Linked DNA regions of Homo sapiens: regions 2, 3 and 4 are each reported to be linked to region 1. The links are microRNA targets in miRTarBase. Many come from high-throughput screens and were not tested one by one. Region 1 holds a microRNA gene; each other region holds the end of a gene's coding sequence.

The links. The annotated mature microRNA hsa-miR-4662a-5p reads UUAGCCAAUUGUCCAUCUUUAG and lies in region 1 at 2,696-2,717, opposite strand. An mRNA with a match to its seed (bases 2 to 7 or 8) in the 3' UTR can be bound and repressed. Matches are read on the target gene's strand: a 7mer-m8 pairs with bases 2 to 8, a 7mer-A1 pairs with bases 2 to 7 and ends in A, and an 8mer does both.
Region 2: miRTarBase lists NCBP3 as a target of hsa-miR-4662a-5p. Seed matches in the 3' UTR shown: 8mer at 2,684-2,691 and 7mer-A1 at 35-41.
Region 3: miRTarBase lists API5 as a target of hsa-miR-4662a-5p. Seed matches in the 3' UTR shown: 7mer-m8 at 1,830-1,836.
Region 4: miRTarBase lists FAT3 as a target of hsa-miR-4662a-5p. Seed matches in the 3' UTR shown: 7mer-A1 at 2,121-2,127.

What each region holds. Positions count from the first base shown.
Region 1 is chr8:124,820,255-124,824,706 of GRCh38, reverse strand. MIR4662A (microRNA 4662a) reads right to left here and starts at 2,722; the gene lies at 2,656-2,722. It overlaps MIR4662B (microRNA 4662b), which reads left to right and starts at 2,649; the gene lies at 2,649-2,729.
Region 2 is chr17:3,809,524-3,813,523 of GRCh38, forward strand. NCBP3 (nuclear cap binding subunit 3) reads right to left here. Exons shown (of 13, transcript NM_001114118.3): 13 at 1-3,756. The coding sequence ends at 3,521. Among named protein-coding and RNA genes, the nearest start is that of ITGAE, 10 kb to the left of the region's middle. RefSeq lists an enhancer at 3,367-3,872.
Region 3 is chr11:43,341,865-43,345,864 of GRCh38, reverse strand. It overlaps API5 (apoptosis inhibitor 5), which reads right to left. Exons shown (of 14, transcript NM_001142930.2): 14 at 1,336-3,437. The coding sequence ends at 3,355. Among named protein-coding and RNA genes, the nearest start is that of TTC17, 15 kb to the left of the region's middle.
Region 4 is chr11:92,890,699-92,894,698 of GRCh38, reverse strand. It overlaps FAT3 (FAT atypical cadherin 3), which reads right to left. Exons shown (of 28, transcript NM_001367949.2): 28 at 1-4,000. The coding sequence ends at 3,586. Among named protein-coding and RNA genes, the nearest start is that of LINC02746, 23 kb to the left of the region's middle.

The DNA.
Region 1 (4,452 bases):
TTCAATAAATATTGATTAATTAGTATTGAATAAACAAATTAACCTCATGGGGCACATGATTTGGCCTGTAGGATAATTGAATCTATGGTAAGGGGCATTGTTTTATCAAGAAGTAATTTTAGCCAGTTCCTGTTATGATCTTAAACTGGGGAAATACAAAACAATAAGATAAGGCTTATTGAACATTTACTCTGTTGGATCCTGAAGCTTCATTCAGATTATCATTTGCATCCCTTAAAACAACAACATCAACTACAGCTCTTATTTTCATTTTGCCAATGTAGAAACTGAGGCTCAGAGAGATTAAAAACCTTCTCCAAAAGTCACAGTAAGTAAAGGAGAATCAGGAGTTGAACTCAGGAAATCTAATTCCAGTTTCCACACACTTAACCATTATAGCTTATTCCTTTCCTCTTACCAAATAAGTGGAACCCTGCCAGGCTCTTACAATCTAGTTCTAGAATCACTGAGTGTTACTGGCAGGGACCTTTAAAAGTATCTAATCTAATGGTCTTTTTAAAAACAATGAAACTGAGAACCTGCAAAGGCATGTGACTAGCCTCGATGAGAAAGTGGCCCAACTGGGGCTTGAGCCCAGGTCTCCCGCCCTCCATGCTGGTGTGCCTTGGTAGGAGTGTGGACCTGAACTACAACAGGTCATTCACCCAGGCCCCCAGCTCTCCATCCCACAAATGGGCAGGGAAAGGCAGGGAGGTATAAAACACCGGCTTCCTACCTTCTGCTTCGATCCACAGAGAAGACTTAGGCCAGAGTGGCCCTGCACGTCCGCCTTTCCCCTCTCAGGGAGTCCCTCTTTCTGGGTTTGAGTCTTGCCAGTCCGAAACACGTGCGAATAGAATCCCAAAAGCACAGGGCCCAGGCTTTTTTCTGGGCGATGTGCTGTTTTTTTTTTTATATCTCAGACTATGGCTGTTACTGTCCATGGGCTCAACTAATGCAGAGAATTGTAGGACATCTAGCCCTGCTCCTAAAGGAGGCAAAATGATCCTTATCATGCCTGTTATAGCCAAGGAAGGCTGGACCCAATTCCACAGAACTCGAGATGGCGCTTTTCATTTCAAAGAAAAGACACTATGAGCCTTTCTCATATTTCACAGCATGCTGTGTGTTGCACTTGACCTCTACTCTTGCCCTCAGCTTCCCCAGGTGGCCTCGCCTCCCTGCTGCAGCCCCAAAGCAGTAAAGCTACAGCTCTGGGCCATGGGCTGTGGCTTCAGTGATCTAGGACCTGATTCTCCTAAAAACCACAAATGGATAGTTCTTCCAAAGACCCAGGGTCCTCATAGAACTCTCTAGAAACAGTAATGATCTCCTTGGAGCTCAAACAGTCCCTGAGCTATCAGACCCTGCCAACACCAGGGCTTAATGCTCAGGGAACACATTTTATGAGAGCAACTGTCACTCCTGAGCTTCTGTGGGTCACTTGAAATCACCCAGTTATTTTTCACTCAGCTGAGGGGCAGTATAGTTCTGACGGGTGGCTTTGGGTTCACTGCCTTCAACTCCAGTCAGAAAACGTTAGTGCTGAAATGGATCCGGGGTACAAATAGTTGGGTTGTTGACATGCTTTCTTCTGTTGTATACATAAAGGTTCCACATACAAAAACCTATTTGCAAAGAGAGGTCAGATGCTTAAATGTGAATAATAAAAATGCTTATCCATGGGTACTCTAGTTTAATCTCCTCATTACAAGAGGAATCTGAGGCCCAGAGAGAGAAAGTGACTTGTCCAAAATCATACAACTAATATTGCAGCCAGCAATAGAACAAAGAGAGCTCAGGAATTCTGGGTCCCAGTGACTATGGAAAACAATTGTCTGAAATTTTACCACTAGAAATTGCTACTCCCTGCCCCATACTACCTGAGTCTTATTTAGGTAAACAGATAGTAAATATAAACATTATCATTGTAAAAAAATGTTTTAAAGACCAAATATATTTATAAAGTTTTTTAAAGTGATCTTTTGTACCCCTTTGTACTCTACCCAATCCCATTCATTTCCCGAAGGATGTCCGATGTTAACAAATGAGTGTCAAGTCCTTCTAGGCCTTTTTCTATGCACTTAGGAATGTGTTTACAATATATGACTGGGTTTTAAAAATACATACTTATATACTATATGTATGTAGATATAAGTATAAATTTATAAGCCATATTTATATATTATGCCATTTATAAATATAAAATCAAATTGTTCTGTTTTGAGACTTCCTTTGTTCACCTAACCTTGTGTCTTGGCACTTTTTCTCTCTCTTTTTTTTTTCTTTTTGAGATTTTGCTCTTGTTGCCCAGGCTGGAGTGCAATGGCACAATCTCAGCTCACTGCAACCTCCACCTCCCAGATTCAAGCGATTCTCCTGCCTCAGACTCCTGAGTAGCTGGGATTACAGGTGCCTGCCTCCATGCCCACCTAATTTTTGTATTTTTAGTAGAGACAGGGTTTCGCCATGTTGGCCAGGCTAGTCTCAAACTCCTGACCTCAGGTGATATAACCATCTTGGCCTCCCAAAGTGCTGGGATTACAGGTGTGAGCCACCGTGCCCATCCATGGCACTCTTTCCATGTTGGTCAATAGAATCTTGATGTTTTGTCGATGGCTTCATGGTATTCCATTGTATGGATGTACCACAATTTCTATTTAGCCAATTGTCTATCTTTAGGCATTCAGAATAGCTAAAGATGGACAATTGGCTAAATAGACACTGTGGTACACAATGGCTTTTTCTGTTGCAGCCATGGTTGCAGTAAACTTCCTTGTATATAAATCTCTGGGACATGAGCCAATGTTTCTTCAGAAGAGATACCTAGAAGTGAAGATGTGAGATCATTTGTCTACAGAAGGTTTCACTTTAAGTTGTAATGACTCGCCTTAATGTTGTCCAAAGGTTGTTTTTCTAAACCTTATTTGAGGGCCCACAACAGCCATAAACTTTTACTTATGTTTCACCTAGAATCATCACAGCAATCCTGTGAAAGCAAAGTATGATCCCTATTTTTCAAAAAAACTCACTGAAGTAGGAACAGACGAAAAATATCTCAATTTGTGAAAAAGCATTTACAAAAAAAAAAAAACATCTAACATCATACTTAATGGTGCCAACTGAACGTCTTCCCACTGAGATTGGGAATAAGACAAAGATGTCTGCTTTCAACATCTTCTTCAACAGGGTAGTAGAAGTTCTAGCCAGTGCAATATAGCAAGAAAAAGAAATACAAGACATACAGATTGAAAAGAAAGAAATAAAATCATCTCTATTTGCAGATAACATGATTGTCTATTTATACAATCCTAAAGAATCTAAAAAACATAAACTAAAATAAACCTCCTAGAATTAATAAGTGAATTAAGTAAGGTCACAGAATACATGATCAACACTCAAAAATCAAATGCATTTGTTTATCCTGTCAATGAACATGGGGAAACTGAAATTAAAAACAATACCATTTACAATCACTTCAAAGAAAATAAAATACTTAGGTATAAATACATATACTATGTCTCTGATGAAAATTACAAAATGCTGATGAAAAAATAAAGACCTACATAAATGAGGAGAAATACCATGTTCATAGACTGGAAGACTCATCATAGTGGAGATGTCAATTCTTCCCAAATTATCAATAGTTTAACACAATTCTTATCAAAATCCCAAAAAGATTTTGTAGACAAAGCCAAGCTTATTCTAAAATTTGTATGGGAGGCAAAAATTTTGAAAATAAAATAGCTGTGATAACTATTTTAAAAAGTAGGAGGAAGCACTCTACCTTGTGTTAAGTCTCACTATATAGCTACAGTTGCCAAGGTAGTATGATATTGGTGGAGAGATAAACCCACAAATCAATGAAACAGAATAGAGGACTCAGAAATAGACCCACAAAAATATACTCAACTGATTTTTTACCAAAAATACCAAAAGTGCAAAAGCGAGTGAATGAAGGAAGGAAACTCTTTTCAACAAGTGGTGTTGGAGCAAAAAACAAAACAAAACAAAATCTCTTGTTTTAACTTAAGTCTCATACTTTAAAACTTTATACAAAAATTAACATAGATCACAGACTTAGATGTAAACATAAAACTTCAACACTTTTAGAGAAAAATATGGGAGAAAATCTTTAGCACTTAGAGCTAAGTTAAGGAGGTCTTAGACTTAAAATCAAAAGCACAATTTATAAAAGAAAAAATTGAGGCATCTTGATACTTCATCAAAATTAAAAATGTTTGCTCTGAAAAACACCCTATTAAGAGAATGAAAAGGCTGGGCACAGTGGCTCACACCTGTAATCCCAGCATTTTGGGAGGATCACGAGAGGTCGGGAGTTCGAGACCAGCCTGACCAACATGGAGAAACCCCGTCTCTACGAAAATACAAAAAATTAGACAGGCTTGGTGGCAGATGCCTGTAATCCCAGCTACTCGGGAGGCTGAGGCA
Region 2 (4,000 bases), not on the chromosome of region 1:
GGTGAAACCCTGTCTCTACTAAAAATACAAAAAATTAGCCAGCGTGGTGGCACATGCCTGTAATCCCAGCTACTCTGGAGGCTGAGGCAGGAGAATCGCTTGAACCCCGGAGGTGGAGGTTGCAGTGGGCCGAGATCGTGCCATTGCACTCCAGCCTGCACAACAAGAGCGAAACTGTGTCTCAAAAATAAATAATAGAAATAGAAATATATATATATAGCCCTAAAGTAGAAACAACTCAAATGCCCATTAACCAATGTGGATTAAAAAAAAGGTGGCATACCCATAAAATGGACTATTATTTGGCAATTTTAAAAAATGAAATACTGATAGAAGCTATGACATGGATGAACCTCAGAAATATGTTAAGAAGCCAGTCACAAATAGACACATAGTATATGATCCCATTTATATGAACTATCCAGAACAGGCAAATCCACAGAGAGAGAAGGAAGATCAGTGGTGGCCAGAGGCTAAGAGGGAAGAGGGAATAGGGAGAATTGCTAATGGACTCAGGGTTTCTTTGGGTGATCAAAGTGTTTTAAAATTGATTACGGTGCTGGTGCATAACTGTAAATATACTAAAAGCCACTCAAGTGTACACTTTAAATGGCTGAACTGTATGCAAATTACATCTAAATTAAGCTGGTAACAACAACAAAGGTTCATCCCGCTGCAGTGTGCAGAATGGAGACAGGGCAGAGACCAGTGAAGAGGCTGCTGTACAAATGCAGCTGGAAAGGGCAGTGGCTGAAGAACGGAGAGGGGTTCACAGGATCAGACTACAAGGGGGCCAGAGGAGGAGACTACATCCTGAGGACGCCACAAATTATCCTGGGTACCTGGTAACTCTCCAGAGAGGAGAGTGGGAAACAAATGAGGTATCTGCAATTATCATCAAGCAGCAAACATGTATGTAAAATCTCCTACACATAAGACTAAGAGGAACACACAAAGTGTGCAGCCCTGTGCCCACATGTGTGGGGAGTGTCCAGGGTAAAATCACGCCCAGCTGCCTGCCACGGGCCTGTCCTGACTATCCATTCTTACTCTTAAACTCCAAAGAAAAGGCCTCATCATTCAGGACACACTCAAGATGTTGCAAGATCTGAGTGACTGAGAGTGGGCAGGAGGGTTAGAGAAACTAATAAGGCCAGTAACTCCGAGAAGTAAAAATCTTTAAAGCTGCCTTTCTGGGTTCTCTCTGTGTGTCTGTGAAAACTGTAAGGTTACTCGAGTGTGTATTTCTCTTGGTTACATCAAAGACCCAGTTTTGACTGCACACCACCTCCTTCCAGAATGGCTTCGCTGATCTGTAGCAGGAGACTGCTGAGTGCTGAAAGGCCGTGGAACAAATGGACCTGAGCTGCTGGTGTAAAACCAAAAGGAAAGTCTGTGAAGGAGCATATTCTAAACCCTGCAGAGGCATGCCAGCTGGGACGCTGACCACAAGACATCTTTGCCCCGTCAGTAGAAGCAGAGACTGTGCTGGGATGGGAATAAGCCCCTGTCTACACCTCATGCGCGCCCTCAGTTGTCTCCCTGGCGCCTCCTCCACCTGCAGTAGAAATTCATGCTGGCGAGCCCACTGCCGTCACAGCTTGGGAAGAGTAAACCGCCACTGAGATGCACCAACAAAGCCAGGAATTCTGGTAACAGCCCACTCAACTGCTAGACGGGAAAACTGAGGCCCAGGTCCATGGAGCAGAGCCAGGGGTTGGCATCCAGGTGTCCGATTCTCAGGCCCCCGCACTCCTCACTCTACCAACTCCCCAAACCCTGACCCTTCCTAAGAACCTGGCTCTCAGCTGTATGCTTCACAGGGAAAGAAAAGCTGAGAAATCTCAGATGTCTTAAGTCTCAACTGGCAGAGAAACCAGAACCATCTCTTTCCTAGAATCCTAATAAGAAGCTGAAATATATCATGGTTATATCCTCTAATCTCTCTAAAGGGAGGGAGAAAAAGCAAGGTTAATCAACAAAATATGGGACAATACAGTTTTTGTTGCAGCTCTCAAATCTTGCAGCCCTTTACTTCCTTTATTAATAACAGTGTTCTGCATTAATTCGTGCCACAGTGTAATCAACTATCAATGTGACCATTAGCTCCGCCACAAGTAAAGATCGACAGGATCCAGGCTGCACTGTGTGCACAACAGCCCAGGCAGGTGAAGAGTCGTGACATCGCAAAAAGGACCACGGTTTATTACCATCTCTAACGCCCATGTTCCAGCAAACCGAAGAAAAACACTGTTTCTTAAAACTGCAGAGGAATACAAAATTAAATACTACAAAACAAAAATCAGACAGGAAGACGAAACAATCTACCTCCTCCTAATGGTAAAATAATCTGAAAGGAGTTTAAAAATAAATGAACTAAAATTTTTATAACTATTATCTTTTCTGCCAATTTTGAAGATGTCTTCAGGTGCCACAACGTGGGGACAGAAAGAATAAATATCAATGTATAACTTCTAGAGTGATAATAAACAACAGGACCCCATCTCAGATGGATGGATTTTTTTTCCTACTGGAGCCAAAAAACAAGCTGAACTCTATGTACAACAGACAGACTATACAACTAGGAGCATTTAAAAATAATAAGACTCCTCTCTCTGCCTTCTTCCAAAGAATAGAATATATATTTAACAGCACAAAAGACGACACCACTTGAGCTTCCCCTTTAGCCAACAGGAAGAATTTCCACATATAAAAATTAAAAATTTAAACTTTCAAATCATTCATGTTTTAAACATAATACAGACTTAAAAATTCTTCAACATTGACCCATAATCCCACCCCAGCACAAAAATCAACCCCAAATCCAGACGTCACAGTTTTTTGTTCCTAAAAATCCCACAGCACTGAACTTGATCTTCACATCAAGCTGACAGCACGTAAGAGGCCCATGCCATGAGCAATCCCCGAGGGAAGAACGGAAGCACAGTCAATGCTGCAGCTCTTATCTACCTGGGCGGCACTGGTGCACCTCTGAGGTCAGGTCCGTGAGATTCGCCCCACACTAGGGTCCCGGAAGGGTGAGCTGGCCGCTTCCCTCCTCTTCCCCCTCGAAGGATGTCCAATAAGCACCTGGGAATTGACTTTTCTTGGGAAAAGGGTGCTGGTAACAGCTGTCAGGGCCAAGGCAATAGTGAGAAGTTCAGTTCTCTGCTCTTTGGATGAACTGTGTAAAACATTTCTTTTAAAAGACACAATGTTAAAAATATTAAGAAAAATGTCTACAAAATCTGGAGGGCTGCCTTTTTCTCAAAGGGTAAAGCCTGTGGGGTGGTGGGAAAGGAATCGAGGGCCCAGAACTACAACTCTGCAGCGAAAGATAGAGATGCCCTTGAAAATGTGTCACATTCTTAAGATGTCTTGCCGAAGTAGCAAGAGCGGAGGGTGACTGTGTGAGCAGGAGCGAGAGGGCGCCAGCTCCTGCGGGGGAGGTTCCTACTGCGCGCCCCACCCTGTGCAAGAATGTCAGGCTTTAGGGCAGCTGCCATAGGCCCCAGGGGCATCAGGACTCTGCCTCTGAACCAGAGCTGCTTTCCCGACTAACTTCAATCTGGAGAGATGGTAAGTTATCTAACCGGCTCTTCTTTTGGCGAGACTGCTCTTTCTCCTTAATCAGAGCCCCCCATGCCCTTTGCAGCTCAGAGTCGTCTTCCTCAGCGCCAGGCGCCCTGTGATCCACTTTCTTCGTATTCTTTTCTTTGGTCTTGGGTGCAGATCCTAGGCGAGTCCATAAATTACCTGTTTGGATGAGATGGCATTTCACTTTCGCAGTCAGCGCTAAGAACCAGGGTAGCACTGAGGGGGCAGCAGCACTGCCAACACCTGCTGTGCAGGAAACGCCAGCAGTCTGTGGAGCCTGCCACCACAGTGCAGCCTTGGGCAGGCAAAATCTCATTTCCCGGGCCGCAGCCCCTGCCCGCAAACGGAAGGGTCTGGACCCAGCACGGGATTCTCACCGTGGGGGGACAGGTCAGGTCCCTCC
Region 3 (4,000 bases), not on the chromosome of region 1:
AAAGCCATGGTAATGTTTTTGGTTACTATTCTGAAACGGGGAGCCAGTGAACAATTTCTGGCAGAAAAGTAGATGTCTCTTTGCTGCTGGGTTTCAAGCAGATTGTAGAGTTAGGTGTAACGGCAGGGAGATCAATTAGGAGGTTATTACGAAACTCTAGGCAAGAAATAATGGGGAAAGAAATTTGGCATTCCTTAGCATATAGATAGTATTTAAAGCCATAGGCCTGGAAGGCCGGGAATGGTGGCTTATGCCTGTAATCCCAGCACTTCGGGAGGCCGAGGCTGGTGGATCACCTGAGGTCTGGAGTTCGAGACCAGCCTCGCCAACATGGTGAAGCCCCGTCTCTACTAAAAATACAAAAAATTAGCTGGGCGTGGTGGCGGACACTTATAATCCCAGCTACTCGGGAGGTTGAGGCAGGAGAATCGCTTGAACCTGGGAGGCAGAGGTTGCGGTGAGCCAAGATCACACCACTGCACTCCAGCCTGGGCAACAAGAGCGAAACTCTGTCTCAAAAACAAAACAAACAAACAAAAAAAACGCTATAGGCCTAGATGTGATCACCAAGGGAATTTAGTTATCTTATCCTGATCCACTTAAACCCCAGCTTTCAAACACTCACAACCAACCTTAGTGCTACTTCAGGAATATTTTCATAAAGGCTGGCAGTTAAATTACTAAGTTCCAACTTGCTTTGCACATTATCTGAAGATAGAAATGATTTACTTAATGATGATTTGGCAATTATCTGATGTTTTGCTTTAATAAAAAAAAACCAAATCCTTTTTTTCAGATTAGCTCCTAAAAATAAATTCAAATAAAAACTTTCAAGGATCAAAATTAAAGATGATTTACAAAATTATATCAACACTGAACTCCTCATGGGCCGGGGGCGGTGGCTCACGCCTATAATCCCAGCACTTTGGGAGGCCAAGGCGGGTGGATCACGTGGTCAGGAGATTGAGACCATCCTGGCTAACACGGTGAAATCCTGTCTCTACTAAAAATACAAAAAATTAGCTGGGCGTGGTGGCGGGCGCCTGTAGTCCCAGCTACTCAGGAGACTGAGGCAGGAGAATGGCATGAACCTGGGAGGCGGAGCTTGCAGTGAGCCGAGATTGTACCACTGCACTCCAGCCTGGGAGACAGGGCGAGACTCCGTCTCAAAAAAAAAAAAAAAAAAAAAAAAGACTGAACTCCTTGAAGGCAGAGAGCAGTTCTTGTCCATCTTTATATTTTCAGCCTATTGGCACAGTAGAAGCAATCAATAAATGTTAATAACTATCCAAGAATCTGAAGTTACCATAATTATAACACATCAAGACACAAAACAAAATTACAAAAGGAAATTTATTTCAAAAGCATAAGGGGACATTTACATTTAAACAAGATGATAAACAGGTGTCTTGCAAAAGAAAAAAATCCATGGCATTAAGTTTTTCATTCAAATTCGGAAGCAAAAATAACCTAAGTTGTGCACTATTGCCTTAGGAAAGGGAAGGGGAAGGGTGAGGGATAAGGGAACAGTCAACTCAGTATCAAACTTGAGAAAGTAAAGTCACTTCTGCTCAGTTCTGAGTTTACAAATATGCTTATAAAGACAAAAAGTGGTAAAATTATATTTAATGTTCAAATTTATTTAGCTGTAGTCTCTATAATTTCTGTACTTGAAATGGCTTTGGGCCACTGGCTGATCTATCTCTGAGGTCCAGATTAGCTGGTCAGTTTTCAAATGGCAATTTTATATTCCTTTGTTCAGATTCCAAGGGAGTTTAGGTTCAGCTCATGGTCTTTTGGAATGTTTAGAGATTATTGCCACCACTCCATAGCCAAGCTGACCAACTTTTGCTCACTTGTATCATTCTAGCCTTTCAGAACTATTTTCCCCATACACATGTGCAGTAATTCTAATAAAGGAGTTTTGCTTCTTCTGCAGTGTAGAGGTAATGGTAATGAAGACACCTGCATTGGAATCACAAACTATTCCTCAGAAAAATACATCAGACTACTAGAAATGTCATTCAGGCAGTTGATTTGAATAGCAAACTTGGGGAGGGAAGATTAACTGTGAAACAAAAATATACGAAACATTCAAATGCAGAACAAAGGGTCTATCCTACTAAAAATGCCCATGACATTAAACACTCCACAAACCCCCCATCTGTTGTTTTAACCTAAAAATTCTATTGGCTAACTTATACAATAATTTTGATTAATAACCTGAGAAGTTAAAATCTTGAAAGTGGCAAAAGCAAACCGAGAGAGCATCCCTTACTTATTGGTACCATGTTATCAAGTCACTTTTTCTGGGTAGCCCTGGTTATTAAATCTCCAAATTGTAAATTATACCATCTCTTCCTGTAGAAACCTGTATGTACATCAGATTCAGTATTTTGGTTGTTATTTCACCAACAGCAATTCCAATTTATCTTTGAAAATGCAGCCTTTATTCTTAGTTTTAAATAACAATAATCATGTAAGTGCAACTAACTTAGAATCCCTTGCTACTGGGAGTAAAAACCTAAATAACAAGTTAATAACGGATTCAGCCTCAAAAGGATAATCACCGTGTCAGACTACCCGTTCCTGGAATTTAAAAAGTGATTTATGTTGTGTAGTCAAGTTTCACAGCATGCATATATATATATATACACACACACACACACATATATGCTTATGTATGTATGTATATTATACATACACATTTCTATTCAAATAGTAAGATTCCATATTCAAAAGTTTGTATCACAATATATGGAAAAGAATTAAGTAGGCGGTGCAAAGCAACTTACTTTCTCCTAAAAATGTAATGTCATTCCTATATTTTAAGAAAGCTATGTAAGTATTTTGCTTTTATGACACTAGGTAGGAATGCTGCACCACTGCCCAGCAGCTTTATTAAACAATTAAAACAAAATGTTAAGATTGACCATTACTCTTCTCCATATATTGGGTAAAAAACTAAGAGGGAAGAGGAAAATCAGTAACCTTTCAAAACTGATGATCTTTATCAGCAGAACTAGACTGAATTTCATTACATTTTAGAATGAACAGCTCTCAACAACAAATTATCAAGATGTTTAAAAGATTCACAATTTGAAGTCTGAATAATGATACTGCAAAAACAAGTCAAGATTGCAGACAAAGCATCCAAAAATATCACTGTGGTTTTACCTTGGACACAACCATGGTCTGTTACAAAAGTAGGTCATACATACAAAGGTATAAAGAACATTAAGTTTTTAGCTGAAGGCAGCAGTCTGTTTAAAGGGACATCCCCGGCAATCCAATGAGTAGTAGAATTTAAGTATATTAAGCTCATGACAATGCTGAAGAATGCTGATGTCTTATTCAGTAGAGTCTTCCCCGACTACGATTTCCTCGTGTGCCCCAACCTCGGCCACCTCTACTTCCCCTGAAGGCTCCTCTCTGCTCTACGAAAAAGCGAACAAGGGTTTAGGTCTTGCTTAGGATTTCATGGTGCAGCAAACGCAGAAGAAACGTAGCTCATAACTCTGAATACAGCAGTAGGCCCTATAAGAACAGAACTAATATTCTGCTATTCAATCTACAAATTTAGCCTGTACATAAAACAAGAACAACATATATACTGAAGCACGTAAGGCAAGGTACCGACTACATTCATGGTAGTTGCTTAATTAAATGTATCCCAGTAACAAAGTTGTTTCAAGGTGATGTTACGATAACTACACTTTTTTTGGAGGGTCTTGCTGTGTTGCTCAGGCTGGAGTGCAGTGGTGCGTTCACAGTTCACCATAACATTGAACTTCTGGACTAGAGTGATCTTTCTGCCTCAGACTCCCCAGTAGCTAGGGCTACAGATGCACACCACCATGTTTGGCTATTTTTTTTTTTTGTAGAGACAGGTCCTCATTTTGTTGCCAGGCTGATCTCAAACTGCAGGCCTCAAGGGATCGTCCTGCCTCAGTGCTGGGACTACAGGTGTGAGCCACTGTGCCCAGCCCGTACACTTTTT
Region 4 (4,000 bases), not on the chromosome of region 1:
CTGGCATAGACTAGAATGCAGCAGCAAAATATTCATAGAGGAAAGGGAATAAATGAAGCATGCATTTTATTCACCTTTTATTACTCCCAAGTTCTTGCTTACTATATGACGAGCACCAAGAGTCTAGCTATTCTCAACCTAACCAGAATGTGTGCAATACTAGTAAAGTGCCTACAACAGATTATGGGAAATGGCTTCCAGGAGGTGGCACATACATGTTCGAAAAATGAGAAAGACATTAATTGATTTAAATAGTTTCCACATGGTTCATCATGGTGGAGGGGGTAGGACAAAGAGTAGCCAGTGTTTGTGGGAAGAAAAAAATGCAAAACCAAAACCAAAAATGCAACCAGTAGGTAACAGTATAATCAAAGTTTCACTACAACTGATGACTGGTCTGAGCTGAACTCTGTAATTATCATTTCATCCCTATTATACAAACATTCATTTGGCAAAAGCAGCATTTCGATGAATGTCTACAGAAATGTATGAATTCTATAACCCCTCTCCCTAGGGGGACTGCAAGGAAACATAAGATCATGAGGCTTTCAGAAAAATATTCTCCATGAATTTTCTTTTATAGCATATTCCAAAGAAGGAATGGTGGAAGTCAGAGGGTCCATCAGAACCAGGTGACTCCCATGCTCAAGGCAGTGTAGGGGTGAACAATATGATGTAAAAAGAATATTGGCTAGATGGATGGGTTCTACTCCTTGTTAAGCGAATTAACTTCCTCTGTGGGCTTGGGCAAGTCTCTTTCCCACTCTGGGTATGTTTCCTCTTTGATAAAATAAGGAGTTTGGACTAGCAAATAGGATTCTTCCAGCTTTTTTGAATTAGTGATCATCCCCACCTAGTAGCATCTTGGCCTGACTGCAAAGCATTTCATAATCTACAGAGAAATCTAACTTTCCAAAAAGTGAAGAGATATCATGTGTTTAAAGATAATAAATCAAAACACAATACATGCTTGCCTGGTATATATTTAGCTGCAGAGCTATTCTGCAGAAAATCAGGGGATGATATCCCAAAGAAAGAGATATTTTATATAGGTCACAGCAAAGGGTGGGCACAATTTTCTTCAGTGGCTTCATGACTGCATTAGGATCTATTTATTCTTTCATTACTGTGTCAGTCAGGCATTCTCCCTCAAAGAGATGCTGTGTAAGCAGTAGGGACTCATCAGCATTAATCTCATTCTAATATTTCCTGGGGGCAGGAAATGACATGTTGGTTTTACTTTGATGGTTTTTATGTCATTGCATTACTTAAAGTGTAGCAGTCACTCTATTCTAGGCCATTAGTTTGTCATTTTTTTCCATGATTCTTGCAAATGTGCTTCTTACATAAGAAAAATACCAAAGACTTTGTTCTCGAAAGCAGCCTTAGTGAAATTCATTTATTTCAAGATCACAGTGTGGATAATACCTCCATGAGTAGGTCTGACCAAGAGACAGGAAGAGAAAGGCTGGAAAACTTGTGAAGTGTAGTGTATCCACTTACTTAGAAAGTTTGGGAATGAAAAAGGATTTTTTTTTTTGCATAAACATTCAGAAACACTGACTCATAAAAAAGAAGTGGATTAAACGCAATTGAAATAACTAAAAATATGTCTGAGTGAATAATGCACAGACTAGGGACAGTACAATTTACACACCAATGCCATATGTCATCAGAAACTGTGGACACAGATTTGCTCATTAAGCAGATAGTGCAAATATGCATATATTTACCATGGCCACTGCACAGGCGGCCGTAATCTGATTGAAGCAAAAAAGGAAAGTCCCTCAACCTGTCAACTTTCAGTTTTGAGGACTGGATTGTTATATTTCCAGTGGAATGATTCTCCTGTTAATTTTGGAAATCATGGCCAAAGCCCACAGATGAGAAGGGAATCCCAGGGTGTAATCAAACATTACACACTTTTAAAACAGAGGTAAGTTCTGGAAAATTATAACAAAATACTGTTTTTAAAAAGCACAGTTTTGGGCTGGGCACGGTGGCTCATGCCTGTAATCCCAGCACTTTGGGAGGCCACGGCAGGTGGATTACGAGGTCAGGAGTTTGAGACCAGCCTGGCCAACATGGTGAAACCCCATCTCTACTAAAAATACAAAAAATTAGCCAGGCGTGGTGGCACACACCTGTAACCCCAGCAACCTGGGAGGCTGAGGCAGGAGAATCGCTTGAACCCAGGAGGTGGAGATTGCAGTGAGCTGAGATCATGCCATTGCACTCTAGCCTGGGTGACAGAGCAAGACTCTGTCTTGAGAAAAAAAAAAAAAAGCACAATTTTGCTTTATTGGCAGTACCAAAATAAAGTTAACTGAACCAGAGTAAAATATGGCATTTGATGTTTCTCTAACACCATAGAGATCAGAGAAATTGAAAGGTATGCCATGCTCGCCGGCAGAATTTTCAACATGGTCCATTTCCCAAAACCTTCACATTAGCTTTCCTCAAGAGCAGCCTTACTGAGTGCAAGCACATATTTGTACATAGGCCCAGACACACACACACTATTATAATTTATACACAATAACTAGTCTACTTTCCTCTTTTCTTAACATAATTGTATTTATAATGGTGATGCTACCGATTTAGAATAACAGACACCTTTCCTCTGCATTATGAAGAATTGTGATTATCTAGGCCGCAAACTTTGAAGGTATCGTTTTTTCTTTTTTCCCCCCTGAATTTGTGAGTTTTGCTTAAACTTCTAAAAATATCTAATTGTAGAGAAGCTATATGAACAAAGCCAACTTCTGTAGCAATGTTAGATTTACCAACTGGAATATTTACCAGAAAACACAAAACCAACCAGATAATCACATTCTTTCTAATGTTCAAACAACTTTAACTTCCTCCCCCACCCACCAAATGGAACCCAAAAAGCCTCATGTTGCTCTTCATTGATACCTTTCTTGAAGATCATAAAACCCAACTATATTAGATTGGATGCTTAACACAAACAAACAGAAATAACTGAGCATACTAAACATGTTATTCAAGCCTAATTTTATAGCTGAAAATTGGGCAGCTTATCAAAAAAATAGAGTTGATTTAAAAGGCTTCAGCCCATTTTCTGGTTTGTTTAATAATATTTGTTTCTCTTCTCTTTCGCCTAAGAGACTAACTTTTCCAACAATCATTACTACTATTTTCATTTCATTGGCTCAAAATTACATGCAACAATGCCTCTTTGATTGTTGCCAGTTTTTAATACTGCAAGGACTGATGCTGTAACACTTTCCAGGGCACAATACTGCACAAAGCCATACAAGACTGGCTGTATAACTTAGTGGGTGAAATAATTTTTCCCTCTTTGCATTTTTAGCTGTGAACATAGGTACCTACATCAAGGATTACCAGTCACCTCTCAAAAACAATTTCTGAGCCTTTCATTTTCACCCAACTGGAATCAAGCTTGCTTGTTGGGACAGTATGACTTGTGAAGAAGTTTCTAGTGGAAAAATACAGTATTCCCTTCTCATTCCACAGACAATGCTCCACTGGGACAGAAGCCCAGCCAATCTGCTTCCACTTTTCTGTAACAAACAGGGTGAAGTACCCAAGATGTGATGTCTACACTTGAGTCTGATGCTGAGTCTCCACAAAGGGAATGTGAAGGCTGGCGAGGCTGAGCTCTCCCACGCTCTCGTAGTCACTCATGGCTACTTCGGAATCGTCAAAGCCGCAGTTGGCAGACACATCCGAGGATGAGGTGCCTCTGGAATTGTGCAAGGACAGAGACACGCTGTCTGCTGGGCCTGTGGGCTCTGTGCCCTGGTTCATGCTCACAGCAAAAGTACTAAATTCACAGCTGGCAGGCGGGCCCACCAAATCCGTTTCGTTGGGGAATGGGTGAGGAGGGAGATACTGGCTAGGATGAAACTGGGGCCTTCTCCTGCAGTCTGGGCTCAGTGTGCTGGCCAGGGAGACAGGCTGGGAGGGTGGCAGGGCCTCATATTGGTCTGGGAAGTCCTCCGGGAGAGGAGGA